Homo sapiens: one gene and its partners. The protein of the gene in region 3 interacts with the protein of the main gene of each other region in a biochemical or structural test. Each region holds a gene or a part of one and is shown on either strand. Other genes may lie near its edges. The genes, in order: PTPRF, PTPRD, OMG and PTPRU.

The links.
Region 1: the proteins of OMG (region 3) and PTPRF form a complex in vitro, tested with the Homo sapiens proteins (one study listed by BioGRID).
Region 2: the proteins of OMG (region 3) and PTPRD form a complex in vitro, tested with the Homo sapiens proteins (one study listed by BioGRID).
Region 4: the proteins of OMG (region 3) and PTPRU form a complex in vitro, tested with the Homo sapiens proteins (one study listed by BioGRID).

What each region holds. Positions count from the first base shown.
Region 1 is NC_000001.11:43,617,858-43,624,166, forward strand, and holds the end of PTPRF (receptor-type tyrosine-protein phosphatase F isoform 1 precursor), read left to right. Parts: coding exon 1-54; intron 55-772; coding exon 773-892; intron 893-1,190; coding exon 1,191-1,345; intron 1,346-1,430; coding exon 1,431-1,716; intron 1,717-1,822; coding exon 1,823-2,001; intron 2,002-2,237; coding exon 2,238-2,364; intron 2,365-2,596; coding exon 2,597-2,722; intron 2,723-2,980; coding exon 2,981-3,135; intron 3,136-3,239; coding exon 3,240-3,375; intron 3,376-4,077; coding exon 4,078-4,146; 3' UTR 4,147-5,809; downstream 5,810-6,309. UniProt on the Homo sapiens protein: Possible cell adhesion receptor. It possesses an intrinsic protein tyrosine phosphatase activity (PTPase) and dephosphorylates EPHA2 regulating its activity.
Region 2 is NC_000009.12:8,516,980-8,524,004, reverse strand, and holds part of PTPRD (receptor-type tyrosine-protein phosphatase delta isoform 1 precursor), read left to right. Parts: intron 1-480; coding exon 481-492; intron 493-2,458; coding exon 2,459-2,728; intron 2,729-5,575; coding exon 5,576-6,157; intron 6,158-7,025.
Region 3 is NC_000017.11:31,294,236-31,302,149, reverse strand, and holds OMG (oligodendrocyte-myelin glycoprotein precursor), read left to right. Parts: upstream 1-4,910; 5' UTR 4,911-4,994; intron 4,995-5,812; 5' UTR 5,813-5,818; coding exon 5,819-7,141; 3' UTR 7,142-7,503; downstream 7,504-7,914. UniProt on the Homo sapiens protein: Cell adhesion molecule contributing to the interactive process required for myelination in the central nervous system.
Region 4 is NC_000001.11:29,232,119-29,239,530, forward strand, and holds the start of PTPRU (receptor-type tyrosine-protein phosphatase U isoform 1 precursor), read left to right. Parts: upstream 1-4,403; 5' UTR 4,404-4,526; coding exon 4,527-4,599; intron 4,600-7,412.

The DNA of each region.
Region 1 (6,309 bases), on a different chromosome or scaffold from region 3:
GAACAGCGCACGGCCACTGTGGTCATGATGACACGGCTGGAGGAGAAGTCCCGGGTGAGGCTGCAGGGCCCTGCCAGGAGGCGGGTGGGAAATGCCCAGCCACAAGGTGATACAGGGCACCTTCTTCTGTGCCGCTTTCTTCTGTGGAGGAAGTCGCTCAAGTGATCCCCAGATGCTATTGTTACTGGGGGTATTATGCTCCCCAAATACTGGGTGTTTCTGGGATACAGCATGTTCCCCACATGCTAGTGGGTTCCTTAAGATGTTAATATGTTTCACCAAATGCTGTCATTTTCGGAGAATGTTAATGTGTTCCCCAGTTGCTGGCGTGTTCCCGGGGTATTCATGTGTTCCCCAGATGCTGGAGTGTTCCTGGGGCATTAACACATCTCCTAAGTTAATTAGTGGAAAGAGCTGCTGTTATCTGTTTTTGGACTGCAAAGCATTGACTGGAACGTAAAATTTACAGAGCTTGAAAATGGCACATAAACGTTATGGGTAAATTTGGCAGAAAATGTGCCTGGTGCGATCTGGCGTTGAATAAATAATTTTCAATTATGACCCTTATTCCACTAGCTAGGGCAGGGCGGTGACATAGCTTGAGGACCTGATGTGGCTTGTGGAGGACAGGGGGCAATGGATCTGAGAGCTCAGGGCTGGGGGGCTTTGTAGCCAGAAAGGCTACAGCCAGGGAGTTGACCAGCCTCCACCCTGCTTCTGCCCGTCTGAGCCTGTGGGCTTCCTTCAGCCTGCCCTGCTCATCCTCCTGCAGGTAAAATGTGATCAGTACTGGCCAGCCCGTGGCACCGAGACCTGTGGCCTTATTCAGGTGACCCTGTTGGACACAGTGGAGCTGGCCACATACACTGTGCGCACCTTCGCACTCCACAAGGTATAGCCTTTCCCCAGTGCATATCTCTTACCCAGACACTGTAAGGACAGTGGCCTGGGTGTGGTGTGCTGGGTCGGGGGGAAGCTGGAGCCTGGGTGTTGGAGGGTCGGAGGCTCAGGTGTGTGAGTGATGTGATGATCCATGTTATGGGAACAGTGCTAGGAGCTTCAGGCTACTCTGTGTGGCTTCTGAGTCCCATGGGGAAGTGGCGGGTATGGCCTCAGCATCAGGTCATTCAGTCCTGAGTCTATGGCAGGTAGGCTCCTAGTCGCCAGTATGTCCCCACTTTGTCCCCCAGAGTGGCTCCAGTGAGAAGCGCGAGCTGCGTCAGTTTCAGTTCATGGCCTGGCCAGACCATGGAGTTCCTGAGTACCCAACTCCCATCCTGGCCTTCCTACGACGGGTCAAGGCCTGCAACCCCCTAGACGCAGGGCCCATGGTGGTGCACTGCAGGTGAGAGGGTACAGTGCCACCCAGAGGGGTGGGTGGGGTGGGAGGTGGGGGCGCCTGTGCCTCAAGCTGAGCCCGTGTCCTGCAGCGCGGGCGTGGGCCGCACCGGCTGCTTCATCGTGATTGATGCCATGTTGGAGCGGATGAAGCACGAGAAGACGGTGGACATCTATGGCCACGTGACCTGCATGCGATCACAGAGGAACTACATGGTGCAGACGGAGGACCAGTACGTGTTCATCCATGAGGCGCTGCTGGAGGCTGCCACGTGCGGCCACACAGAGGTGCCTGCCCGCAACCTGTATGCCCACATCCAGAAGCTGGGCCAAGTGCCTCCAGGGGAGAGTGTGACCGCCATGGAGCTCGAGTTCAAGGTGGGGCTCGGGTGGGCCTGCTTGGCTCCAGGGCCTAGACTGGGTCATGCAGATGACCCCCACCCCCACAGGAAGCCTGGCCTGACCAATCCCTGCCTCTCAATAGTTGCTGGCCAGCTCCAAGGCCCACACGTCCCGCTTCATCAGCGCCAACCTGCCCTGCAACAAGTTCAAGAACCGGCTGGTGAACATCATGCCCTACGAATTGACCCGTGTGTGTCTGCAGCCCATCCGTGGTGTGGAGGGCTCTGACTACATCAATGCCAGCTTCCTGGATGGTTATAGGTCAGCATGCATGTCACTGCCCCACCATGCCCTACAGGGGCCTAGGCCTGTGCCTGGCTGGTGGGGGTGGGCAGCAGAGTAGGGCCAGCCTAGAAGACCAGAGAGGGCTGGGTAGAGCAGTGAGGACTTCCTGGAGGAGGGGTGATCTGAGCAGGGCCCCAAGGGGCTAGGCAGCCTAAGGGGAGACTCTAGGGGCAGCAGCACCTCCAGCATGTCCAGTCTTATGTCCACCCCAGACAGCAGAAGGCCTACATAGCTACACAGGGGCCTCTGGCAGAGAGCACCGAGGACTTCTGGCGCATGCTATGGGAGCACAATTCCACCATCATCGTCATGCTGACCAAGCTTCGGGAGATGGGCAGGGTGAGCCCACCCTTTCCCCCAGGGCCCCTGTCATACCTGGGAGAACACCAGCCACCCTTGGGGGAGCTGCCGCCTATGTTACTGTCTCCTTTGACACCCCAGCTGCTTGTCAGCATGGCCTCAGGCGCCCGTTATTACTACCTGAGGCATCTGTCCCAGAATCCTGTGAAGCCTGGCACCCCTCCCCTATTCCTTCTCACCTGATTATGGGGGCCCGACCCTCTGTCCACAGGAGAAATGCCACCAGTACTGGCCAGCAGAGCGCTCTGCTCGCTACCAGTACTTTGTTGTTGACCCGATGGCTGAGTACAACATGCCCCAGTATATCCTGCGTGAGTTCAAGGTCACGGATGCCCGGGTGAGTGAGTGCATTGAGTGTGTCCATAACGCTGCCTGTCCACACGCTGGGTGGATGGCTGCCTGCATGGTACCTTAGCTCAAGCTTCAGAAATCTGAGGCGGTGGGTGGGTATTAGGGTGTGAGCACATCTCCCCCTGTGGCCTCGGGTGCAGTGACACAGATGCATGCCTGTATCATGGTACTACCCTGGTCTAGTCCAGAGGGGTGGCTGCCTAAGGCACGAATTCTAATCATGTACCCCACCCACCTTTCCCAGGATGGGCAGTCAAGGACAATCCGGCAGTTCCAGTTCACAGACTGGCCAGAGCAGGGCGTGCCCAAGACAGGCGAGGGATTCATTGACTTCATCGGGCAGGTGCATAAGACCAAGGAGCAGTTTGGACAGGATGGGCCTATCACGGTGCACTGCAGGTGGGACTGGCCCCCTGGAGGGCTGGGGTGGGTGGGCCTGAAGGCCTGGCAGACCCACTGCATGAGGCAAGCAGGACTCCTGACCCAACTGTGTTTCTGAGCAGTGCTGGCGTGGGCCGCACCGGGGTGTTCATCACTCTGAGCATCGTCCTGGAGCGCATGCGCTACGAGGGCGTGGTCGACATGTTTCAGACCGTGAAGACCCTGCGTACACAGCGTCCTGCCATGGTGCAGACAGAGGTAACGCAGACCAGGCTGCAGGGCCAGGGCCTTGGCAGCAGCGCTGCTGGGAACCCTAGGCTTTAGCAACAGTTTGATGCCCACAGGCATGTGCATTCATTCATGCTGCCAACCTTTCACGTGGCCTGCGATAGGCATGGTGGTGTGTGCTTATGGTCCTACCTACTTGGGAGGTTGATGTGGGAGAATCACTTGAGGTCAGAAGTTCGAGGCTGCAGTGAGCTATGATTATACCACGGCACTCCAGCCTGGGTGGCAGAGCAAGACCCTGTTGCTGAAAACAAAACAAAACAAAACAAAAATGCTGCAACATTGCCTGTGCTGCCTGGGGGCTCAGGGGATTGATGAGTAAGATGTGTTCTTTCATTCGGCAGCTCTCTGCTGAGCCCCAGTGGTGTGCCTGGCTCTGGGCAAGGTTGCACAGAGCAATCCTTATGGGGTGCCCAGTCAGGAGCAGAGAAACATGATTGGGATGGCAGATGGAAGGCAGGTAGATGTGGGGGCCTGAGAGAATGACAGGAGAGAGATGAGCCTTCAGAGGCTCTTTCAGGCTCCCCCGCACACTGCCTGATGTAGCTGCCAGGGTCCAGCACCTGCTCTTGGCCAGCAGAGGCTAACTCCATGGCTGCAGTGTGAGTGTCAGCTGTGTAGTGGGGGTGTCCACTGGCGCGACCCACACTGACCAGCCCCCTATCCTGGCAGGACCAGTATCAGCTGTGCTACCGTGCGGCCCTGGAGTACCTCGGCAGCTTTGACCACTATGCAACGTAACTACCGCTCCCCTCTCCTCCGCCACCCCCGCCGTGGGGCTCCGGAGGGGACCCAGCTCCTCTGAGCCATACCGACCATCGTCCAGCCCTCCTACGCAGATGCTGTCACTGGCAGAGCACAGCCCACGGGGATCACAGCGTTTCAGGAACGTTGCCACACCAATCAGAGAGCCTAGAACATCCCTGGGCAAGTGGATGGCCCAGCAGGCAGGCACTGTGGCCCTTCTGTCCACCAGACCCACCTGGAGCCCGCTTCAAGCTCTCTGTTGCGCTCCCGCATTTCTCATGCTTCTTCTCATGGGGTGGGGTTGGGGCAAAGCCTCCTTTTTAATACATTAAGTGGGGTAGACTGAGGGATTTTAGCCTCTTCCCTCTGATTTTTCCTTTCGCGAATCCGTATCTGCAGAATGGGCCACTGTAGGGGTTGGGGTTTATTTTGTTTTGTTTTTTTTTTTCTTGAGTTCACTTTGGATCCTTATTTTGTATGACTTCTGCTGAAGGACAGAACATTGCCTTCCTCGTGCAGAGCTGGGGCTGCCAGCCTGAGCGGAGGCTCGGCCGTGGGCCGGGAGGCAGTGCTGATCCGGCTGCTCCTCCAGCCCTTCAGACGAGATCCTGTTTCAGCTAAATGCAGGGAAACTCAATGTTTTTTTAAGTTTTGTTTTCCCTTTAAAGCCTTTTTTTAGGCCACATTGACAGTGGTGGGCGGGGAGAAGATAGGGAACACTCATCCCTGGTCGTCTATCCCAGTGTGTGTTTAACATTCACAGCCCAGAACCACAGATGTGTCTGGGAGAGCCTGGCAAGGCATTCCTCATCACCATCGTGTTTGCAAAGGTTAAAACAAAAACAAAAAACCACAAAAATAAAAAACAAAAAAAACAAAAAACCCAAGAAAAAAAAAAAGAGTCAGCCCTTGGCTTCTGCTTCAAACCCTCAAGAGGGGAAGCAACTCCGTGTGCCTGGGGTTCCCGAGGGAGCTGCTGGCTGACCTGGGCCCACAGAGCCTGGCTTTGGTCCCCAGCATTGCAGTATGGTGTGGTGTTTGTAGGCTGTGGGGTCTGGCTGTGTGGCCAAGGTGAATAGCACAGGTTAGGGTGTGTGCCACACCCCATGCACCTCAGGGCCAAGCGGGGGCGTGGCTGGCCTTTCAGGTCCAGGCCAGTGGGCCTGGTAGCACATGTCTGTCCTCAGAGCAGGGGCCAGATGATTTTCCTCCCTGGTTTGCAGCTGTTTTCAAAGCCCCCGATAATCGCTCTTTTCCACTCCAAGATGCCCTCATAAACCAATGTGGCAAGACTACTGGACTTCTATCAATGGTACTCTAATCAGTCCTTATTATCCCAGCTTGCTGAGGGGCAGGGAGAGCGCCTCTTCCTCTGGGCAGCGCTATCTAGATAGGTAAGTGGGGGCGGGGAAGGGTGCATAGCTGTTTTAGCTGAGGGACGTGGTGCCGACGTCCCCAAACCTAGCTAGGCTAAGTCAAGATCAACATTCCAGGGTTGGTAATGTTGGATGATGAAACATTCATTTTTACCTTGTGGATGCTAGTGCTGTAGAGTTCACTGTTGTACACAGTCTGTTTTCTATTTGTTAAGAAAAACTACAGCATCATTGCATAATTCTTGATGGTAATAAATTTGAATAATCAGATTTCTTACAAACCAGGACTCTGTCTCAGCTGTTTCTGGAACCAAAGAGTCTGGGCCAAATCAGTAGCTAGGATGGGTTCTGGAGATTCCCTGCTCCTGAGGAGACGGGGAGGGTACCCTAAGTATTTGTGCCAGTGTAGGCTCCTGGCATGGCTACCCACTTTCAGAAAGGAGTGGTTATAAACCCTGAAAACCAGGCCACCAAGAGCCAGCCAGGCCAGAGCCACCAGTGCATGTGAAGAGCACCCTAGGCCGGGGAGCATACCCTTTGCCTCTCTTTCCCTTTAAGATTCTGTGGGTTGCACTATCGGGGCATTGGGACTGCCCCTCTCCCACTACCTTGGAGGAGAGGGATGGCCCTGTGGCAGTAGAGACTGAATGTATGGAAATTGGTTAGTGAGATCTCCTGTAATTATTGCAATGTGGATAATGGACACAAAAAACAGTGTGTCCATCTGGCCCCTGGACACACAGCTGCATCACCCACTGAGCTGTGCAGCTGCTCCACTGGT
Region 2 (7,025 bases), on a different chromosome or scaffold from region 3:
AGAAAAGACTGAGAGGGCTTTAAGTTACAATAGGATGGGTTCCCTTAAGAAAATACCTAGCTTGATTTTGAAATTTTTGTTAGAGGTAATTTTGTTTCCCTGGGGATGTTTTTCTCTCCTTTCTTTTTTTATGGAGTCTGGGGTGGGGAAATATGAAGAAAGTCATTTCTTCTCTAAATTCTTCGAAAGTCCCTTGATCCTTTTTCCACAATAGTGACCTCCCTTGCTGCATGAGGCATGTGTACCTTCTTCCATGGAAAATTTCAAAATGATGCTAGCTATTGTTTCTAATACCATGTTAGTCTGTGAGATATTGCTAACTTTTCCAGCTGAGATAGGAAGGATGAACTAGAGCGAATAAAGATGTTCAAGTAGCAGTTGAAAGCCTTGATATGGCCTTTTTACTCTCTCTGTGTTTCCCTTGTTTTTCTCCTTTCCTCATTTCATTGTGTTCTGCATCAAACCCCCTACATCCCTCAGAGCTGCGAGAAGGTTGGTGTGTTTTTTACTTTTTACCCACCTTACAAAACTATTAATTAAACCAATAACAAAGAATACAAATGAAATGAATGTAGCTGCATTGTGTTCTTCTTTTGGTTAATGGTATGTTTTAGCAGAGAATGCCCTGGCCATGGCTTCTGGTGCTTGCTGGTGGTATCTAACTGTGGTGCATGGTGGGAGAGAATGTACCTGGGTGCATGGTAACTGGTAACACTTAACTCTGTAAGGTCCAGTGAACTTGGTCAGTGTTCCTGCTTTCCTTCCTGCTCCACTGTCCCCATCTCCCACCCTGCCTTTAATTTCTGTCTTATAAGGATGCCTGCTGCCCATAGAATGACTTTTTCTAGTTTCTCCCCTAATCCCAAGCATGAAGACTAAACTCTCCTCCATTTTTCTTGATATGTTCTTTGATACCTCAGAGTCTACACTGGCTCCTGCTTGCTTTGTGTAACCTCTGTGAATTGGCTGCAGGAGGCATGCTTAGCTTTCTCTTCTTCTCCTATGACTGTCATTCACCCATGAGGCCATTGCAGTGAGCCATCTCAAATAAGCGGAGGTTTATCTCGACCTTAAGAGCAGCCAAAAAGTTTTCAGACAGAATTACTTATCTTCTTCTTGGGGTTATGAGGTTACTTATCAGTTTATTTATAATTTTTAAAAAATCTTTATTAAATGTATTTAAGGTGTGCTCCCTAAAGATTACCCTCTAGATCTCAAATTCTTATGGTATGACATTTTGCCAGTAAAAGCCCCAGATGAAACCAATTTATCTTTCACTTTCTCCTTGTATCACATCCAAAACACATTTACTTAAACACACATAAACCTGCAGATTATCTGAAGCAGGAACACTGAACTGAAATTGCTTGGTAATTTTTCTGTGTTATGTTGCTTTAATATGATCTCTTCTCTTAATGTCATGTCCTGCTGTATGTTTTAGATCCAGTGTCCCTCAATTTGAATGTGGGCATAAAAAGCCTTTTAAAAGATTTTGTTGTCATTTATGTTGTTTTACCTTTGATATGAATTGAATGGAATCCTGTATGTGAAACACCCAGCTCCCTTTCTGAATTTGCAATCCTTACCTTTAACAACTTGAGCTTAATCTTCTGTCTTTCAACCCTGTCATCCCCTAAGTCCCTGTGTTTCAATCGTTATACTTTACCTCCCCCTTTCACGTTTATTTCTATTGCCCCCTTATTTCTTCTGCGGTCATTGCTGTCTTGGATTCCAGCCATTCTTTCAATATCCTTAGCACGGGCCTTGAGATTCCATCTTGTGCATGCCTTGCATGACCCAATCCAGTATCTCTACTGGTGTTAGCCTGTTTCTTCTTCTGTGACTGTAAATCAATATGTATATACATTTCTGTGTTTGTTCCAGTGTTAGTGTGAGGTCTTGAGGCTGCATCCACTATGAATCTGAAAACATAAAGTGCACTTTCAGTGTACTCTAGGTGATGTTTTCCAGGGCTGGGATGTGACAGTGTGGTCCCACACCTACATTCACATCAACTGGAAGTGCACAGCACTGAAGTTGGTTTTGATACTCAACTTAAACATGCTGGTGACCTTCCAGCCCCCTTTTCTGCATATACATGCCTGCATAGAATCATTGTTATATGCCTGCATGTATATGTTTTTGTGTTTATCTTATGCATGATGTTTGTGTATTGTTAGTTTGTAGATAGTTTTTTGTGGGGCCCTTGTAGGTCTGAATCAACTTTTGTATTAGTGTGTCTAAGATATCAATGACTAAACTAAATAAATAATTCTGTGTATACACACACCATACTTGTATGGTCTGTATTATCCACAGTTTTTCTTTATGTTTTGTTTTTGGACAATCCACAATGTTTCAATTGTTGAATCGTGTCTGTACGGTGCATGTCATGTGTTTAATAATCCACTTTTTCTTGCCTTGTATATGTTATCATTTCCCTTGTGTTTTGTTCCAGTTCGCCGTGTCCCACCAAGATTCTCTATCCCACCCACTAATCATGAAATCATGCCAGGCGGAAGCGTTAATATCACCTGTGTGGCCGTGGGGTCACCAATGCCTTATGTAAAGTGGATGTTGGGGGCAGAAGATCTGACACCTGAAGATGATATGCCAATAGGAAGAAATGTGCTAGAACTGAATGATGTAAGACAGTCAGCAAATTACACCTGTGTTGCTATGTCAACACTGGGTGTCATTGAAGCAATAGCACAGATCACTGTCAAAGGTATGCTCAATGGATTATGCTTTGAGGATCTGGGTACACTCAAGCCAAGTGACTAATGCCTCTAGAAAGCCCATCCTTGAAAATCTAAAATAATTCATTATTCAGCATTTTAAATGTGTGTATAACCTAATCATATCTGTGGTATTATATAACATGCATAAGCCTAGATAGGCGGATTTTTTCTTGGAAGTATCTGGCAGCCTATGTAGAGATAATCATCAGAATATTAAAAGACAGTCCATGGAGGCCCAGGCACTAACCAGACAGAACTAGGAATTTTACACATGGTCGACCATTATGGTGGGACTGATGTGTACAGTCTACATACTAGACCAGAACCTTGATAAGAACCCCAAGAAAAGTCAATATGAGCATTAATAAATGCTTAAAATTTCTAAATACAAAGGAAAAAGAAGAAAAAAAAAGTTGAAATCAACATAGTCTAGTAATAGATGATTTAACTTTTTGGTGAGCCCTACTATTAAAAATCAAAAGGCAAGTAAGAGTATATTCTGTTGTAGTTTTATCTTTCACCTTGCATAGATGAGTGCTCAAGGAATATTCTTTCCTTTAAAAAACAGACTAAATATAACCAAAGTACTATATTACATGAATATTTTTGAACTAAAGAGAAAGAGTACAAGCATGTAAGGGTACCGTTTTTTTTTCCCCTAGTGTTTATAGAATTCTAGAAAGTGTTTGCAAATTGAGTCAGACATAGGGCAACTTAAGTTTTCTGCAGATGGCTAGAACTATTGCAAAATGAACACAAATTATCTTCTTTTCCTAGGCAATGTTGTAGGCATTTGGAATTCAGCAGCAAGTAAGAAGTACAAGTTTGCTACTCTTGAAAAGCTGCCATTCTAGGGGGTGATCTTAGAAAATGCAATACACGTTATAATTGGTATCGCATCTCTAACCAAGCGTATATATCAAATATATGCTATATAAAACTAATGACATGAGAACAAAGGTACACATTGTCAACATTTACAATCGTGAAATAATGTTATATTGTGTAACCTTAATATAATAAGCACACATGTATTTATCCGTACATTACAGACATAAAACCTGTACTGTACAATAAATGTGACTTAGTGAAACTAATAATGTCAGCTAAATATCAGTGAGCACAGCTTTAATTAGCAATATTTGTATTTGCTTTGAAAGTTCAGAAAGACATGTAGGGGAAATCTGGAGCACACACAGCCTTGAAAAATGCCAGGTCAGAATATTTAAACAAATTTCATTTTATTATTATTTTCAGTAAATTCCCTTGACAAAATACTATCATTCTGTAGTTCTTTGAGTAGTGTGTAAATATTGAATCACCTTTTTTATAATTACCATTTCAGCTTTAAATATTTGAAGGCTTGCTGAAGACCTTTAAGAATTCAAAAGCAGGGGCCACTTTAAACTAATATTTTGTTCACCTTCTCATCTTTGTTTTCCTGACTCTTGCCACTTCCCTGTCTTTTCCACCTCAAAAATAAACAAATAAAACATAAGAGTGAATCTTAATGGCAAATTAAAATAAATCAAAACAAAAGAACAGGTTGAAGAGAATGAGGTGAATGGGTGCTGACTCATTTATTCAGTTAACTGTTTAACGATTCTCATTAAAAACCTACCGAGTGCCAGGCAGCATTCTAGGCATTCACAATTTTACAGTAAGTCAGAAGTACAAGTTTGCTGCTCTTGAAAAGCTGCCATTCTAGGGGGTGTTATACTTCTTGCCTTTATGTTGGCAAGGAAACAGGGACACTAATGGGCTGATTATATGAATGTTACCCTTTGAGATTTCTCTAAAGAGTCAACTATTAGAATGCCCCTTCCTACCCTAATAGCACTGCGTTTCAGAATCATTGTTTAGAATAAGGCACTTGAATATGAGGTCAGCAAAGCAGACAGTTTATATTTTTAATTAGTAGTATTTTGATTTGTATTCTTCTGCTAAAAAGAAAGAATTAGACCTCTAAAAAGATGGATTTTATTGCAAATATTTGTCATGTAGCTACATTGGATATTTCTGATGTGGAATATAGAATGCATATTAATATGACCATAACATACCTTAAAAAGTGATTGGTGAATGTGCCTTAATTTACTTCCTTCAGCAATTTTTAAATATTAAGAATAAAGCATTGATTTGAAATTTCTATTCTTTTGCACCTTAAAATTTTTGGTTTTTCATTTACAAGAAAATTTTTAGTAATGGTATTGTGTCTTACCAGAATATAGATGTTATTGTTTCATCGCAATTTAATTTCATTTCAATGTATTCCACATTTTGTTCTTTTCAATGTTTATCGGTATTTCAGTTATACCATTTATTTATTGGGGCAAGGGGCTAATTGGCCAAGCTTTTGGTATAATAATAGTAATAACTGCAGCTAATACTAAGGTTTTTTTGTGGGTTCCAGTTACATTCTAAGAATCTTAGTGGATTGGCTCATTAGTCTTCACAGCAAACCCATGAAATACAGTTACATACAGCTGTATAATATGACTTAAATAATAATATTTTTCCCATTTCCACATGAGGAAACTAAAGCAAAGAGAGGTTAAGAAATGCGTGCAGGATCACTTAGCTAATAAGTAGAGGATTTGGATACAAGCCTAAAAATATGCTATCAAGCCCTTCTAGGAAAGCAGGATTTGTGTCACCTATGAATGTTTTCCTGTCCTTCTTGGCCATTCAGAAAACTACTCTTTGCTATAATTTCATTTAATTAAATCTTCAGTAGATACATAATCCTGTCATTTTCATAGTAGAGTTTATAGATTTTTGAAATATTATAGGGATGATGGGTAGTCATTGTCTTTTATCTTCCCCCATCCAAGCCTTACCCAAACCTCCAGGAACTCCTGTAGTGACCGAGAGCACAGCTACAAGCATCACACTGACGTGGGACTCTGGGAACCCTGAGCCTGTTTCTTATTACATAATTCAGCATAAACCTAAAAACTCTGAGGAACTTTACAAAGAAATTGATGGGGTGGCGACCACACGCTACAGTGTCGCTGGACTAAGTCCCTACTCGGATTATGAATTCAGGGTTGTTGCTGTCAATAACATTGGGCGGGGGCCTCCCAGCGAACCTGTGCTAACACAAACCTCAGAGCAAGCACCATCCAGTGCCCCGAGGGATGTCCAGGCACGAATGTTGAGTTCGACCACCATTTTGGTACAGTGGAAGGAACCTGAAGAGCCAAATGGACAGATCCAAGGATATAGAGTTTATTATACAATGGATCCCACTCAACATGTCAACAACTGGATGAAACACAATGTAGCTGACAGCCAAATCACTACTATTGGCAACTTAGTGCCCCAGAAAACATATTCTGTCAAAGTCCTGGCTTTTACCTCAATTGGAGATGGTCCCCTTTCAAGTGACATACAAGTCATCACTCAGACAGGAGGTAAGTTTGGTTGAGGAGGGAAATAGGGCAGGAGGGAAGGGCTGGTGCAAAGAGGTGAGAAGGACAAAAACAAAGAAGGAACAAAGATGGTATGAATTTTAATTTTTGAGATTTAGGGCTTCAAAGCAACAGATGATAGATATCTGAAAAGGAACAAGCATGGACATCTGAAAAACTAATCATTTTGAGCAGAACAATGCATTAACACCCCTTCTTTTTAATTTGTATGGGAATGACTTGAAGACTTCTCTATGTGAGATAGAACAATGTCTCCCCCATGCCCAGTTTTGAGAATAGAAAAACGACACTTCTTTGTAATAGCTAGTATGGTAGAGTGGTCTCAAAAGAGTATTTAATTTGTGTAAGATTGGATGGTTCAAGACAAAGCTAAAAAATAAAACTGTTACAGGGCCTTGGGTATTTAAATGGCTTATATTTGCCAGAAGCTACTGGCTTGAAAATAAGTATTCTCTGAGTGGCTTTAATTTCTGTTTTTCTCTGTATGGCCTCAGTGGATAAAGAGAGACAGTTACCGAGATCTCAGATAGAACATTGGGCCTGATTGATTAACTTTGCTAAGAGCTACAGCAGACATTAGACTATTTTATGAAGGAAAACTTGGCCCTCCCAGTGGTTTTATTTTTCTAAGAGGTTATCAAACCTCTTTGGTCTTTGAGTCAAGGTGATCAGTTTGGCTTTGGGCTAATATAAAATAACAGGCCTCTTCTAAAGTTTATTCTTGAGCCACGCACAGTGGCTCACGCCTGTAATCCCAACACTTTTGGGAGGTAGGTGGATCACTTGAGGGTCAGGACTTTGAGACCAGCCTGGCCAATGGCAAAACCTCATCTCTATTAAAAATACAAAA
Region 3 (7,914 bases):
TCCTTTTATTTTTTTTAAAGAAATTCTTTGCTGGGGGAAGAATAATTCACATTTAACTGCATGTAATTTTCCCCAGTGAGGTCAGTGGAAGCTGAGCAGCCAAACAGTGGCAATCCTTGCTTAATCAGCAGGAAGAGATACAAACTAATAAATGCAGGACAGAAGAAAATGCTGGAACAAAGAAAAATCTTTTAGAGAAAAGATTAAAGAACTAAGATCCAGAAGAGAAAGTTTATTTCATGAATACTGCAAAAGAATAAGGCACAGGGGAATAAAAGGTAGATTAAAGTTCACACCACATACTAGTGGTGCTCTTAACCAAAATAGCATTAACCAGAGTCAGACACAACCCTGAAGACCATTTGGTTCAACTCCTTTTGTTTGTTAACTACTGAGAAAACAGGACCAGAGAAAGTAAGTGATGTGCTTAGAAGTGGTATTAAAAGCTGAGTTTGCTCCCTGACTATTGGTTCAACACTCTTTTCACTAATATAGGACCAAAGAGCACCTACATCATGCACTGAAACATACATATATCACATAAGTCTTCTATTTGGTGTCAGTGGTGAGGGACACAAATGAATTAGATGAGGGTGATCTTTAACTGTTGTTCTTACTGAATTCTGATCAAAAAGTAAAGTAGCACCTTTGGGAACCTATAACTAAAACACTGTGGTACCGGTATATGACTAAACAAACAGATCAATGGAACAGAAGAAAAAGTCCAGAAATAAATATCAAATCAGTGGAAACAAGCATTGGAACAATTGGATAGACATCTGGAAAAAAGAAAAAATTTGATCCATACTTCACACTATATTGGAACACCAAGGACCAGAGTTCTAAATATAAACCATGAAATTATACAAGTAATAGAAGAAAATATGAGTAAATTCCTTTATAATCTGGAAGCGGGAAAAAACCTTCCTAGCTGAGACTCAAAATCCAGAGGCAATAAAAAGGGAAATCAAATTATATGAAACTTTTAAATATCACACACATGCAAGTGCGCATTACACACAGACACACACACCTCACCATAATAAAGCCAAAAGACAAATGGCAAACTGGAAAAAAAAATTAAAACTTAAATCAAGACAAAGTGCTAATACCTCTAAAATTTAAAATGCTCCTAATATGGGGCAGGAAGGGGAAGACCCAAAACACAACTTTTAATAGTGCAAAACATTAAAAAGACAGTTACAGGAGAAAACATTTAAATGGTCTTTAAACATATGTAAAGACATATACTCCCCCTCATAATTACAGAGATGCATTTAAAATTAGATGGAGATACTTGCCTATCAGATGGACAATAAATCCCAAAGTTCAACAACAAAGTATACAGTGAGGCTGTATAGAACTCGACACCATGATACACTGTTGGTGGGACTGCAAAATGGTATAATCAATGGAGAGGAATTTAGTAATGTCTGGAAAAATTCCAAATGCATTTACCCTTTTACCCAGCAATCCTACTTCTAGGAATCTTTTTCAAAGATTTACTGGCAAACATATAAAATTATTTAGGTACAAGGGTATTCACTGTGGCATTATTCGTAACAGCAAAAGTCTGAAAAACCCAGATGTCCACCAATAGGGGACTGGTTGAATAAGCCATGGTACATTCCCAAATGGAGTACTATGGATCAAACAGTGAATCATACAGATACCTATATACTGATATGGAGTGATACTCAAGATACAGTAAGAAAAGAAGAACAAGTTATCTAACAGTATGTATATATGTCACCTTTTATATTAGAAGGGGGGATAAGAACATACCATACATATGCTTACATTTTTTTTAGGTTTTCAAAAAGAAATGTTAATGATACAACGAAAAACTAATAAAAACAGTTACTAATAGCAGAAGGAAGGAAATAGGATGGAAAAGACAGAGAAGCAAGATTTATCTGAATATACATTGTTATATATATAATTTTGACTTGTGATCCTGAAAAGCTGAAAACTGAAACAAAGTTTATATCAAGTTGGTGATATAAAAATACACAGAAAAGAATTATTTCACATTGCATTAGAACACAGAATTTACTATACACTTTTAGTAAAATAAAGCAAGCAGAGCTACAAACAAATTTTAAACTTTATTCGGTAGTCTATAATCTAATTGTAGCAATCAATACTGGTATTATTTTGAAATTATTGTGAGATGATGCAAATGAGCAATTATGTCAATGATATGAGGAATCACTTATAGAAAATATGGGGGACAGAAGAACAAATTAAATCTTCCCAAAGAGTCAAAGAGAAAACTCCAAGATGAGAGACATTTTAGGAAATAATTGACTGAGTTTTGGCAACAAGCCAGTGGCATAAAGAAAAAAAGGAGTAGGGAGGTGGGCAAAGAAACTGATTCATTTGGATTTTGACTTGGTAATTTCTATGTTGTTATTTCTTTCATGCTTTTAAAGTACTTTATTGAGTACTCTCAGTTGTATTCAGCAGGAAAATCAGTCTAAATAGCCAACCATATTACCAAAAATAAACAATATCTGACTCTCAAGCATAGCAAATGTTACCTATAATAATGGAAAACTGAAACCACTGATTAGCGTGGGATAGCTATTCCTTGGCAGATGCTTTGTGATACCTTTCACAATGTTGGGGTAATATATCCTAGGACACAAAAGAATACGTAAATTAATTTACTGCTTAATCTAGAATGTAAAAGTTGCCTAACTATCATTACTGACCTAGACAGCCTAATAGAAAATGTAATGAGTCTGAATAATATTTAAAATAAGTTGTAACACATACTTATGCCTCTAAAAAATATTTTTTTTGAGTAACAGTAATACAGTATTATTTTATTTCATGAGAATTTCTTTTATTTATTTATTTATTTTTATTATACTTTAAGTTTTAGGGTACATGTGCACAACGTGCAGGTTAGTTACATATGTATACATGTGCCATGCTGGTGTGCTGCACCCAGTGTAAGAGATTGTTAGAATTCAAATATATTGAAATGATCTCCCTTTTTCTTTTTGAGAATTTTACAATAATCTTTGAATAATATGAAGCAATTTGGTATGTCCCAAACTTGAAATGAGAAACATTGCCACTACTATTGCACTGGAATTTTCTATTATATACAACAGAAACTAAACTTGATACAGCCTAAACCCAAATTCATTTGAATCCATTAATGAAGTAACATGTCTTTTCTTTCAAACAAAAGTACTGTTAAGTGTAATGAAAATGCATAACTCTACTTCTACACTGACTTAATGAGGTTTCCTAAAATTAAGAGATTTAAGTGGTCGGTAAATTGACCCTCAGTCACATCTTTAGAAGTGCAGCAGTGTATATATGAGCTTAAATAGAACTCTAAATGTCAATGCATTCCCTATTTCCACAATATTGCTGAATGTAGTATTTTTAACACATTATTTTAAGCACTATGATTGATGGCTGGTTTCCTAAATCCACAGTAAGAATCCAATTGAGAGTTCAACTGAACCCTCAAAGTAAAGTGGCAATAAAGCACCCAATCAACAATAAACTTCTATGTTGCGGACTCTTAAAATGCAGATACTTTTCGAGGAACATTAGTTTTATACAAAAGGTGGCTCCTAGAGTATAGTTTCTCTTGTAAGAAAATAAACTTCAAATTTTAATACAACAAATTCTATTTGTGGTATAATCTAAATAATGCTAATATAATTTAGAGAAAAACAAACGATTTAGTAACAAGGCATAAAGAGACTTTCCTTACACATAACATGCTAAATATTACTCGTTTTTAAATGGTGCCACTTGGTAACGAAAATACCGTAACTTTATTTGCTTTCTTTAAACTTGCCATTCTGGAAATCAGATTTGTGTTTTAACAGATTTACACAAGCAGTCCACTGAAGAGTGGAGCAAAATTTATCATAAATCTGATCTCACTTTATAAAACTCATGATGAAAAATTTTCCTTTTATATCATTTCATGTAATTTTAAAACTATAAACTACTTTCCCAGAAAGATGAAATGTGCAACACTCTGAAATCACCTAAATTGATACTGCTATTCTTAAAACATAAAATCAAATAAATGGTCATTCATACAGCACCAAAAATGTCTTTGGAAAAAACAATACTCATATCCACTTACCACCCAAGGTTGCATAAAGAAAAAAAACTTTAACTCCAAATATATAAAATAAAACATGTTTATTTTACATAGGAACTGATAATCTGAAGTATAAGATGCTAATTTCCAAATGTATCCTGGCTTGTGTGTAGCCTTGGTCAAATGATCATTGTATCAGAAAGATAAAGAAAAAATAATCGTATTTCAGTACTTCTATACATCCTAAAAGGGAAGACGGAACACTTAAGTGGTTGATAAATTTGAAAAGCTGATTAAACATAATAATCACCATGTTGGGGGAAGACATAAAAGTCATAAAACAGATTTTTTATAATATTAAAAAAGTGACATGAAAATTATACAATTTTAGAAAGGAATATAAAAAGGCAGGAGTTAAAAAATAGTGGGACTAATATCATAGAAAACTATCCATGAGGAAGGTCAAATTTATTTTCAACATGTAAAAAGGATAAAGAGTAGAGGTATTTTAAAAATTCACAGATTCTTAATGAGGCAAATGTTAAAATATGGAACCCAATCTCAGACAAATACATAGAAAGGAGTAAGGGCCAACTCTCATGCATAAGGTATCCCATCCTATAGCAAATCAGATATATAGGTACGCTTGATGCCACAAATTTTTTAAAAAATTGTCCATTTTGTTGCGTGTGCACCTCTTGCCATAAATTTGAGTCAGCACCAGCGACAGCTCTGCAGTCCTCCTATGTGGTACTGATCAGGTGGTTGCAGAGCTTCAGCTCACAGCAACACAATGCAGCTGAGCAGGCAAGCACAGCCCACAGCCAGAAACAGTTCCGACTCTACAGAACAAGACGACCTTTAAGTTTCCCAGAGAAAATGAGATGCTGATGTTGAAGACGACACCACGGTAAGATGTTATTTAAATCAGTAAAAGGCTGACTTTGGAATCTTTTTCCTTTTTCTTTTAAGAAAAAGTCAACGTTAGGATTAAATATATATTCAATAGCAAGTGCATGCACCAGAAATTTGCTGCAGTGTCAGTTGAGGGATATTTTTTATACATTCAGTCACTCTGTAAATATACATATTGTTTTCCTTTAAAATGGGCACTGAAATATACAGAAAAAAATCACTTTATAAAATGTGAGGTTTATAGGTACTGTGTTGGTCTGGATTTTTCAAGTGCTTTTTACAAAGATATATTTATCCTAAAAACATACAGATAAAATTTCGAAGAACTGCTTTAATATCTAAATAAAATCTACCCTATATACACACATTGAATTACATTACTGCAGAGATTAAAAAAAAAAGACACGACAGCCATTTTTTCTCATCTGAGTAAGAAAGCATATCATCAAAAATAGTAATAGCCTACAACTGCAACTATTTATTTGCAAAGAATGCTATTTTATCATATTAAGGCTCTAGAAAGATAAATAAGAAAGAATATGGTTAGAAAAGGGGGGAGGGAGAGAGAAAATAAAGGAGAAAATGCAGGAGAGAGTAGGGAGAGAGTCTCTCTCTACCACATAGCCCAATTGAAGGATTAAGCATTTGGACTATAAATGAAGGGGAGCTTTGTTAGTTTAATCACTGGAACAATTATAAAAGGACTCGACAACAACGAGGTTTATTGAAAATTTTGCCTAATGCTAACTGACCCATGCAGATGCCTAAACTGTATTTGCATATTAAAAGAAGGGTGTATCTGTTTGTTTCTAGGCTTTGATGGAATATCAGATATTGAAAATGTCTCTCTGCCTGTTCATCCTTCTGTTTCTCACACCTGGTATTTTATGCATTTGTCCTCTCCAATGTATATGCACAGAGAGGCACAGGCATGTGGACTGTTCAGGCAGAAACTTGTCTACATTACCATCTGGACTGCAAGAGAATATTATACATTTAAACCTGTCTTATAACCACTTTACTGATCTGCATAACCAGTTAACCCAATATACCAATCTGAGGACCCTGGACATTTCAAACAACAGGCTTGAAAGCCTGCCTGCTCACTTACCTCGGTCTCTGTGGAACATGTCTGCTGCTAACAACAACATTAAACTTCTTGACAAATCTGATACTGCTTATCAGTGGAATCTTAAATATCTGGATGTTTCTAAGAACATGCTGGAAAAGGTTGTCCTCATTAAAAATACACTAAGAAGTCTCGAGGTTCTCAACCTCAGTAGTAACAAACTTTGGACAGTTCCAACCAACATGCCCTCCAAACTACATATCGTGGACCTGTCTAATAATTCTTTGACACAAATTCTTCCAGGTACATTAATAAACCTGACAAATCTCACACATCTTTACCTGCACAACAATAAGTTCACATTCATTCCAGACCAATCTTTTGACCAACTCTTTCAGTTGCAAGAGATAACCCTTTACAATAACAGGTGGTCATGTGACCACAAACAAAACATTACTTACTTACTGAAGTGGATGATGGAAACAAAAGCCCATGTGATAGGGACTCCATGTTCTACCCAAATATCATCTTTAAAGGAACATAACATGTATCCCACACCTTCTGGATTTACCTCAAGCTTATTCACTGTAAGTGGGATGCAGACAGTGGACACCATTAACTCTCTGAGTGTGGTAACTCAACCCAAAGTGACCAAAATACCCAAACAATATCGAACAAAGGAAACAACGTTTGGTGCCACTCTAAGCAAAGACACCACCTTTACTAGCACTGATAAGGCTTTTGTGCCCTATCCAGAAGATACATCCACAGAGACTATCAATTCACATGAAGCAGCAGCTGCAACTCTAACTATTCATCTCCAAGATGGAATGGTCACAAACACAAGCCTCACTAGCTCAACAAAATCATCCCCAACACCCATGACCCTAAGTATCACTAGTGGCATGCCAAATAATTTCTCTGAAATGCCTCAACAAAGCACAACCCTTAACTTATGGAGGGAAGAGACAACCACAAATGTAAAGACTCCATTACCTTCTGTGGCAAATGCTTGGAAAGTAAATGCTTCATTTCTCTTATTGCTCAATGTTGTGGTCATGCTGGCTGTCTGAGGGTCTGCATTTTCTGAAACTAATGAAAGCACTCCTCCCTGATGTACAGTTGGGAAAATATGTCCATATCTAACCAGTGATTCGAGCTATATTTAAGTATTCAAGAAAGCCAGTCTTAACATTTCTAACTCTGATGTAAATGAAGTAACTTGTCTTAAATAAAAGAAATGCACAATGTCTTGGTACTTGCTGCTATTTTACTGTCTTAATTAAGTAAACTAATGAGTTTCTTTTATAAAAAAAATGAAATGTTTTAAGGCTTCAATTTATTGCACAAAATATAAAGCATCTAAACTTTAATATGTATTTTATGTATGTTTACACTGTCAAACATCTGGAAAATAAAAGGTCTATGCTCATAACTGTGTCATTTGGCTTTCCAGTCATACCAACTTTAGCAGAATCAAAATGACCTCACCATTTTTGTTCTAGGGTACCTTGGTAAAATCTTTAAGGTAAATAAAATGGCGGTAGTATCCAAGGATATTTTACTGAAGTAAAATCGTAGCTGCCATCCCATGAATGGTTATGCTACAACATTATTTTACAGACAAGCCATAATTGTTTTAAATCTAAATGATGTCCTGCTTCTGAGGAACTCTTGGCTACTTGACAGATTATATAATGGACAAAAGCTCTTCAAAAAGCTAGAAGACACTAGGCTTTGCATTTTAATAAGAAAAGTTTAACGGTTGTGTTTTTTGCATGTAAGAAAAGTGTTAAAAACATAATGAAAAAATTTAAAAACATGTAAAGAAGCAGTTTTAGTGCAG
Region 4 (7,412 bases), on a different chromosome or scaffold from region 3:
CAAAGTACTGTGAGCTAGATTTGGACAAACCTGGCTTTATGTCCTAGCTCTGCCATTTTCCAGCCATTTGATTTCGGACAAGTCACCAGGCCTCTCTGTGTCTTCACTTTCTTACTCTTAAAATGGAAGGAATACTAGTTATCTGTTTCAAGATTGTTGTGAGGGTCAAGTGAGATATTATCCACTTGAAGCATTTAGTACAATGCTTGGCACATGGAAGCATTTGATAAATATTATCGGGGGTTATTGTGATTAAATGAGAAATATCACACATAAAACCCTCAGACTAGGGTCTGGCTTATAGTATGTGCTCACTAAATGTCTGTACTTGTTTTTATTATTAGAGAAAGTTGGTGTCCCATGGTGGGGGAAAGGCTTGGCCCCACATTTATGTGCCAGCACACACACGATGACCAGTCCTGCTTACCCTTTTCCCCAGTGACACATAGGCTTACTTGAACTGGGAAGTACAACGTAACCTTCTGTTGTAAGACTCCCTAGGTGACATTGAGATGTCGACATTCTCTTCTTCACCAAATTGGCTCCTCTGAATTTCTGGGGAGCCCAGTCAGGAAGCCTGAAGAATCATCCAGCAAGTCCTCCTCCTTGGGGCTGGACTTTAGCCTCCTGTGCATCCCAATAGCCCTCACTTTTAGTCTAGGCCATCTGGGTTCTTGCAGGGGCATAGTTTGAGAACTACTGACTGAGGGGTTCAAGTCCAATTTCCTGGACTTGCATTCAAGATTCTTTGCACTCTGACTCCCACACTGCATTTCCAGCTTCATCTTCTCCTGTTGGACCGTGCATAGCCTGTGATCCAGCTGCATCTGATACCCGTCTTCCCCAGTGTGTCTTGTGCCTTTATTCAGGCCACTCCTTCTGCCTGAAATGCTGTTCCCTGCCTCGGAAACTCCAGGTTCAGATGTCATTTCTTTGATGTTTCAAAACTCCCTAGGTCATCTGCTGCTGCCTTTGTGTTTTCCCTGGAGCTGTGTTATGGCCTTTAGTACATCGTCTCTTATTTATTCCCCTCCAGGCAAGACTGGAGCCATGTTTGGTTTATCTCCATAACACCAGCACCCGATATGAGCCTGGCACAGGGTAGGTGTCATAAATATTCCATGAGTTGCAGGTAATTGAATTTCCTCATGGCCTAGAACGGTCTGTGGTGCCATCTCCTTTTCCCTAGATTTGGGCTGGTCACTCCAGGCCAGGAATTTCCTTCTTCCTTCTTCTCTCAAGGATTATAGAAGTCTGTGGTCTTTTTTTTTTTTTTTTTTTTTTTTTGAGACAGAGTTTTGCTCGTTGCCCAGGCTGGAGTGCAATGGCGCGATCTTGGCTCACTGCAACCTCCGCCTCCCAGGTTCAAGCAATTCTCCTGCCTCAGCCTCCTGAGTAGCTGGGATTACAGGTGCCCGCAACTACGTCTGGCTAATTTTTGTATTTTTTTTTTTTTTAGTAGAGACAGGGTTTCACCATGTTAGTCAGGCTGGTCTCAAACTCCTGACCTCGCCTCTGCCTCCCAAAATGCTGGGATTACAGGTGTGAACCACTGTGCCCGGCTGAAGTTTGTGGTCTTTTAAAAGTAAAGCAGAAAGTCCTCTTCTCATCTGTCTACCTGTTGCTTGTGTTCTCTTTCTCCCTCCATTATAGTCTCTGCCATCTTCCCCTGCACAAAGGGCAAAGGGATGTGGAATCAGTCAGATCTGGGTTCAAATCTAGGGCCCGCCGTCTATTTACTAGCTGTGTCACCTTAGGCAAGTGTCATATGCTCTCTGAACCTCAGTTTCCACACCCGTAAAATGGGATCACTGGTAAAACTCCTATTTTGAGGCTCTCTCAAGAGCCCTCTGCAAACAGCACCCTTGGTTGTTTCTTCTGTTCACTGGTTTTCTCTCCTTGAGTTTCCTTTTCTGGGTGGGCCTCTCTGGCTCCTCTCTGCTCCAGCGTCTCTGTATCTTAGTTTCTTCCCTAAGGTTTCCCCTTGGTTTCTTCTTGCTTCTGCCTCCCTCTCCCTATTTAATTATCTGTGTCTAATTCTTGCCTGCTGTGTCTTTTGGTCCCTTTCCTAACTCAGTGTGGAGCTCATCAGCTCTCACAAGAGAGGAGACCAAGAGCCCAGGAACTCTCAACCCAGCGATACCTCCTCCAGCCCCAGGGCAGCTTCAAGGTGTGTCCATCTCAGCATGAAGCCAGCTAGGAGGGGCAGGGCACAGGGAGGGCCTACATATACCTTGAACTCCTACGCTTTGTTCAGTGTCACTGCCCAGTGGTCAGACCCATCTGCCCATGGCTTTCCCTACTTCAGCAGTCTTTATAGCTGGAGCTGTAAAAAAAAAAAAACAAAAAAAAAAAAACCCAGAGATCAGAACTTATTACTCCTTATTACTCCTCTGCTTAATTACTCCACTTCAGTGGCCTCCCATTAATTACTCTTAGGGTTGAACCTCAAGCCCCTTCCTTGCTCATAGTTTCTTGCCTGACCTACAGACCCTGCTGACTTGTCTAGCTGCACCTGGCTCCCTTCTGCCCCTGACTCACTCCATGCCAGCTGCCCGGCTTCCTTGCAGCTGCTTGTACCCACCAGCTCCTGCCTTTGCACAGGCTGTCCCCTCTGACTGCAATGTTCCTCTCCACTGATTTGCATGAGGTTGGCTCCTTCTCATACTTCAGGTCTCAGTTCAAATGTCACCATGTCACTTCTATAGCAAAGCCCTCTTGGACCACTTATCTAAAGGAGATGCCCCTTCCCTATGTTCTTTATCATTATACTCCCTCGTTTCCTTTAGCTTGCATATCTTAGATGGTAATGATATATTTATGTACATGTTTGCTGTTGGGCTCTCCTAATAGAATGTAAGATTCATGAAGGCTAGGACCATTTCCCTTTCATTCATTCCATCCAGTCAGTATTTATTGAGCATCAATTACGTGCCAGAGGCCGGGCGCGGTGGCTCACGCCTGTAATCCCTGCACATTGGGAGACTGAGGCAGGTGGATCACCTGAGGTCAGGAGTTCCAGACCAGCCTGGCCAACATGGTGAAACCCTGTCTCTACTAAAAATACGAAAATTAGCCGGGCGTGGTGGTGGGCACCTGTAATCCCAGTTACTTGGGAGGCTGAGCCAGGAGAATTGTTGGAGCCTGGGAGGCAGAGGTTGCAATGAGCCAAGACTGCGCCATTGCACTCCAGCCTGGGCAACAAGAGTGAAACTCCATCTTGAAATAAAATAAAATAAAATAAAATAATAAAAACATGCCATATACTGGGCACGGAAATACAAGATGAGTCTTTTCCCAAGGGAGCTCATTTCTAGAGGTGGAGACAGATAATGAACTCATCATATAGCCCGCACTCTATTTGAAATTGCAACAATTCCCCTTCCCTTCCCTGTCCCCCCACCACCCCCAAATTTCCTGGTGTATGAGACAGTGATAAAGGACGTACACCAGAGGGTTTGCTTTTTTGTTTTTGTTTTTTTGGTTGTTTACTGTTCTTGTCTTCCCACTGGAATGTAAGGTCCATGAGAGTAGGGAATTTTTGTCTGTTTTATATCTCTACCCTGGCCTATAGTAATTGTTGAATAAATGAATAGACCCCAATAAATATTTGTTGAATGAATAGGTGTCCAGATGGGAGGAAGGTCTCAGCCCCTATTCAATTCAAACCAAACAACTTTGATTCAAATCTCGGTGCTGTCAAATACTGTTGCATAACAGTATTTATGCAGTATAATTATTGCATACCTAATATATGATGATTAAATGAGTCCATGTGGGTTAAACACATAGAAGGTACCTGGTCTTACATAGTAATGAGCAACGAGTTTGCAGATCATAGTGCGAGGGCTCGTTCTGGGTAGAGGCCCAAATACATTTAACCTGTGTAGCCAGAAGGTAGAGTAGGACCAGTGAGGGCTAGTGAGGGAGGTAGACTTGCACGTCATGAAATGAAAAACTTTCTAAAAGCCGGCGTTTCCAAAGCCCCAACAACCGCTCTTGGCCAGGTGATGAGCGCCCTGTTCCTGGAGGTATGTAGAACACGCATTTGAAGGCGCCAAGGTACAAGGGATTCAGGCATCGGATGGGACAGAGGCCGGGTGTCCCTGGGTCACCGTCCCTGAGAGCGCTGTACGGGAGCTAGGCGTGGGCCATGAGCGTGCTCGCCTGGCAGTGTTGGTGCCCGGTCCGTGGAGACGTCCGTGGGCGTCCAGACCCAGCCGCGGGGCCTCATGGCGGGGAGGATGCGGGAGCGGGGGAGGGGCGCGCCAGGGCTAGCGGGCGGCCGGACCCGCTGCAGCACCCGCCGTGGCCAGCAGGGAGCGCCGCGAGACCGCCGAACCCGCGGCCGGGCCTGACGTCAGCGCCCCGCTTGCTCCGGCTCGCGCTCTGGACTCGGCGCCAGTCCCGCTCCGCGCCGCGCCGCTCCGCTCCGGCTCGGGCTCCGGCTCGCCTCGGGCTGGGCTCGGGCTCCGGGGGCGGCGTCCCCCGCGCCGGGCCCCGGGACGGGCGGCGACGCTCCAACCATGGCCCGTGCCCAGGCGCTCGTGCTGGCACTCACCTTCCAGCTCTGCGCGCCGGAGACCGAGACTCCGGCAGGTAAGCGCGCGGCGGCCGGACCGAGCCTGCCCCGCCGAGCCTCGGGGCCCGTGGCGTAGCTCGGAAGAAAGTGTGAGTGTTGAGTGACCGGGCGTTACGAGCGTGCTCCCTGTGTGTGTCTGAGCGTAGGATGGGCGATTGTGTGCCCGGGGTGTTGCGTGACTGCGAATGTTGTGTGTCCGTGAGTTCTGTGCGCAAGAAAAGGTGATGTGTGTCGGCGAGTATGTTGGGGGTGAATGTTGTGTGCATCGAGGCATTGGGTGTGCGCTGAGTGTCTTGTGGGTCTGCCAGTGTGTAGTGTTTGTGTGGCCAAGTGGGTTGTGTGTGCATCTGAGTTTGGTTGTGTTGCGGGAGTTGTATCTGCTAATGTGTTGCATTTGTTTGCATTTTGTATGCCTGGCCGGGAGTGCTGTTTGTTTTGTGTCTGCGAGTGGGTTGTGTGTTTGTGTTATGCCTGTGGCCAAGGGTGCTCTCTGGATCCCGCCTGAGTGTGGATCCGGGAACGCGTGTGTGGCGTGTGTGCTTTTGAGATCCGTGTACATGTGTGAAGGCGTGGGAACGGGTCCGGAACGTGTGTGTCCGTGCGCTGTGTACGTGTGGGGAGTGTCTAGGGTATGTGGTGTGTGCTGCCGGGGGCCGCGTGGGTCCGAGTGAATGCCAAGTGTGCCGGGAATGCGTGTGTGGGAGCGAGTCTGGAACGGATGTGAGTGTGTGCGAATGTGTCCGTGTGTGCTGGCTGCGCGTCCAGGAATGTTGCGAGTGTGGAGCGCGCCTGGGCCGCGGCTGCGAGTGTGCCCTGGTCCCGGGGCCGCCCGAGGGGGCGGTGGCAGGACGTGTGTGCGCGCGTGTGCGTGTGCGCGTGTGTGGCGCGCTGGGCCGGAACAAGTTGTCGCGGCGGCGCCCCCTGGGCTGCCCGGGTCGGGCAGGGCCCGAGGCTCAGGGGAGGACCGGGCCCCGCGGCCGCCGCCTCGGGCATGTCGGACTGTTTGTTGTTTCGCAAGTTCCGCGCGGCGCTGGCGGGCGGCTGATCCGAGGCGGCGCCGGGGCTGCGGGGCGCCCGGGCCAGCGGGCCCCAGCGAGGGGCCGGCGGGCGGGCAGGGGAGGGCCGGACCGGCGGGCGCTCCTGCGGTGGCCGGGCCGCGGCTGCGCCCCGGGCGGCCGGGCGGGGGCTGTCCCCGGGCTGGGCTGCGACGTCCGGGCGCGGGCAGGGCCTGGCTCGCCGCCGGGGGACGGCGCCCCCTCCCTTGGCGCGCAGGACGCGCGGGGGACGCCCGGGCCTCCCGGGACACTCCCTTGGTGGAGCCTGCAACTTTGTGCGGCCTCCCGGCCGGCCGGGACCGCCAGGTGTGTGCTTGAGTGTGAGCGTGAGTGTGAGCGTGTGGCTCCGCGCTTGTCTGCTGTGTGGTCGCGTTCTCCGGGTGTGTTTCGGAGTCTGGTGTCTTTGGTGTGCGTGCGCGTGTGTGTGTGCGCGCAGCTGAATGTATGTATACGGAGCCTGTGTTTGTGTGTCCGTGTGCTCGTCGGAGTGTGGACGGTGTGTCGGATGTGTGTGCGTGCGCGTGTTCCACATCCCACCCTGAGGCCTGGGATCCTAGACCGCGGCCCCTTCCCGCGGAGTTTCGGGGCCCTGCTCCGGGTGACCTCCCCCGCCCTCGCCACCGGCGGGGCTGCTCCGCGGGCTCCGGGTAGCCGGGAGACGCCCGGGGCGGGATCCGAGCCGAGACACGTGCTGGAGCGGAGCCGCTTCCTCACGGTCGCCAGCCGCAGACAACTGACCTCCCCGGCATCGCGTTCGCGGCCCTGCTGCTGGCTCCGGTGTCTCGGGCCGGAACTCCTGTGGCTCCAGCGTTCGCGCCGGCCACTGGCCAGCGCTTGGGCCTCGCCCTGCAGCTCCGGGGCCATAGGGCACAGCTTTAGCTTTGACCTCCCCGTTCCCGAAAGGACGCCCAAGGCGACCTCCCACCCCATCCTCCCCAACTTCTCCCCCATGTCCTGCGGCAACTTTGCCTCCCTCTCCCACCGTGAAATCAAACCCGCGGGGTTCTGTATGCGCCCCATCCCCGCTCCTACCACCATCGCTTTGATTTCAAGAACACTCACAAGCCCCAAGCCCTGCCAGCAGGAGGACTGTCAGGAACTGAAGTTTGGGAGTGAGGCCTAGAGCAGGTTACTCCCATTCTTGATGCCTCAGTTTCCTCTTCTGCCTCATAGCCATCATGATAATGGTGTATGGCACTTTTGGTAGATACCAAGTACCTTGTAAAGTAAGGCTCTGTCTGTGAGTGCCAGGGAACAAAAAATGGATTTGAGAGTTGTTGCAAAGCCCCAGACAGAGGCTGTGATTTAAAGCTGGGGTATTAGGTGTCAAATTCTGCCTCTGCTACTTGCTATTCATGTGATGTCTGGCAAATCACCTCACTTGTAAAGTTCCTGGCCCCCTTTGTTATTCTTAGAGATGAACTCAGAAGCCCAAGTAGAATAGATGTGATACCCCTTGTCCCCAGTCTGGACAGAGTCAGCCCAGCTCCCTGAATGGCTCCGGAGCTTCCGGGTAGGGGCGGTGTGTGATGCCTTCTCAGCCTTGCAAACCTGGTAGTTATTTATTCTGCTGTGTTCTTGCTATTTTGTCCTTTTGGTCGCAGGAGTTGTGGACGGCAGGAATGAGGGAGTGGCTGCCCAGTGGTTTCAGGTTGGGCAATAAAGGCTTGTCTGGGCATCCCTCCCTTTTCCCTGGGGCTAGGGGAGGGGACTTAGCAGGAAGCAGTGACAGTGGCCGAGGTGGGGACGCTGAGCTCCTGGACAGCCTGCTGCCC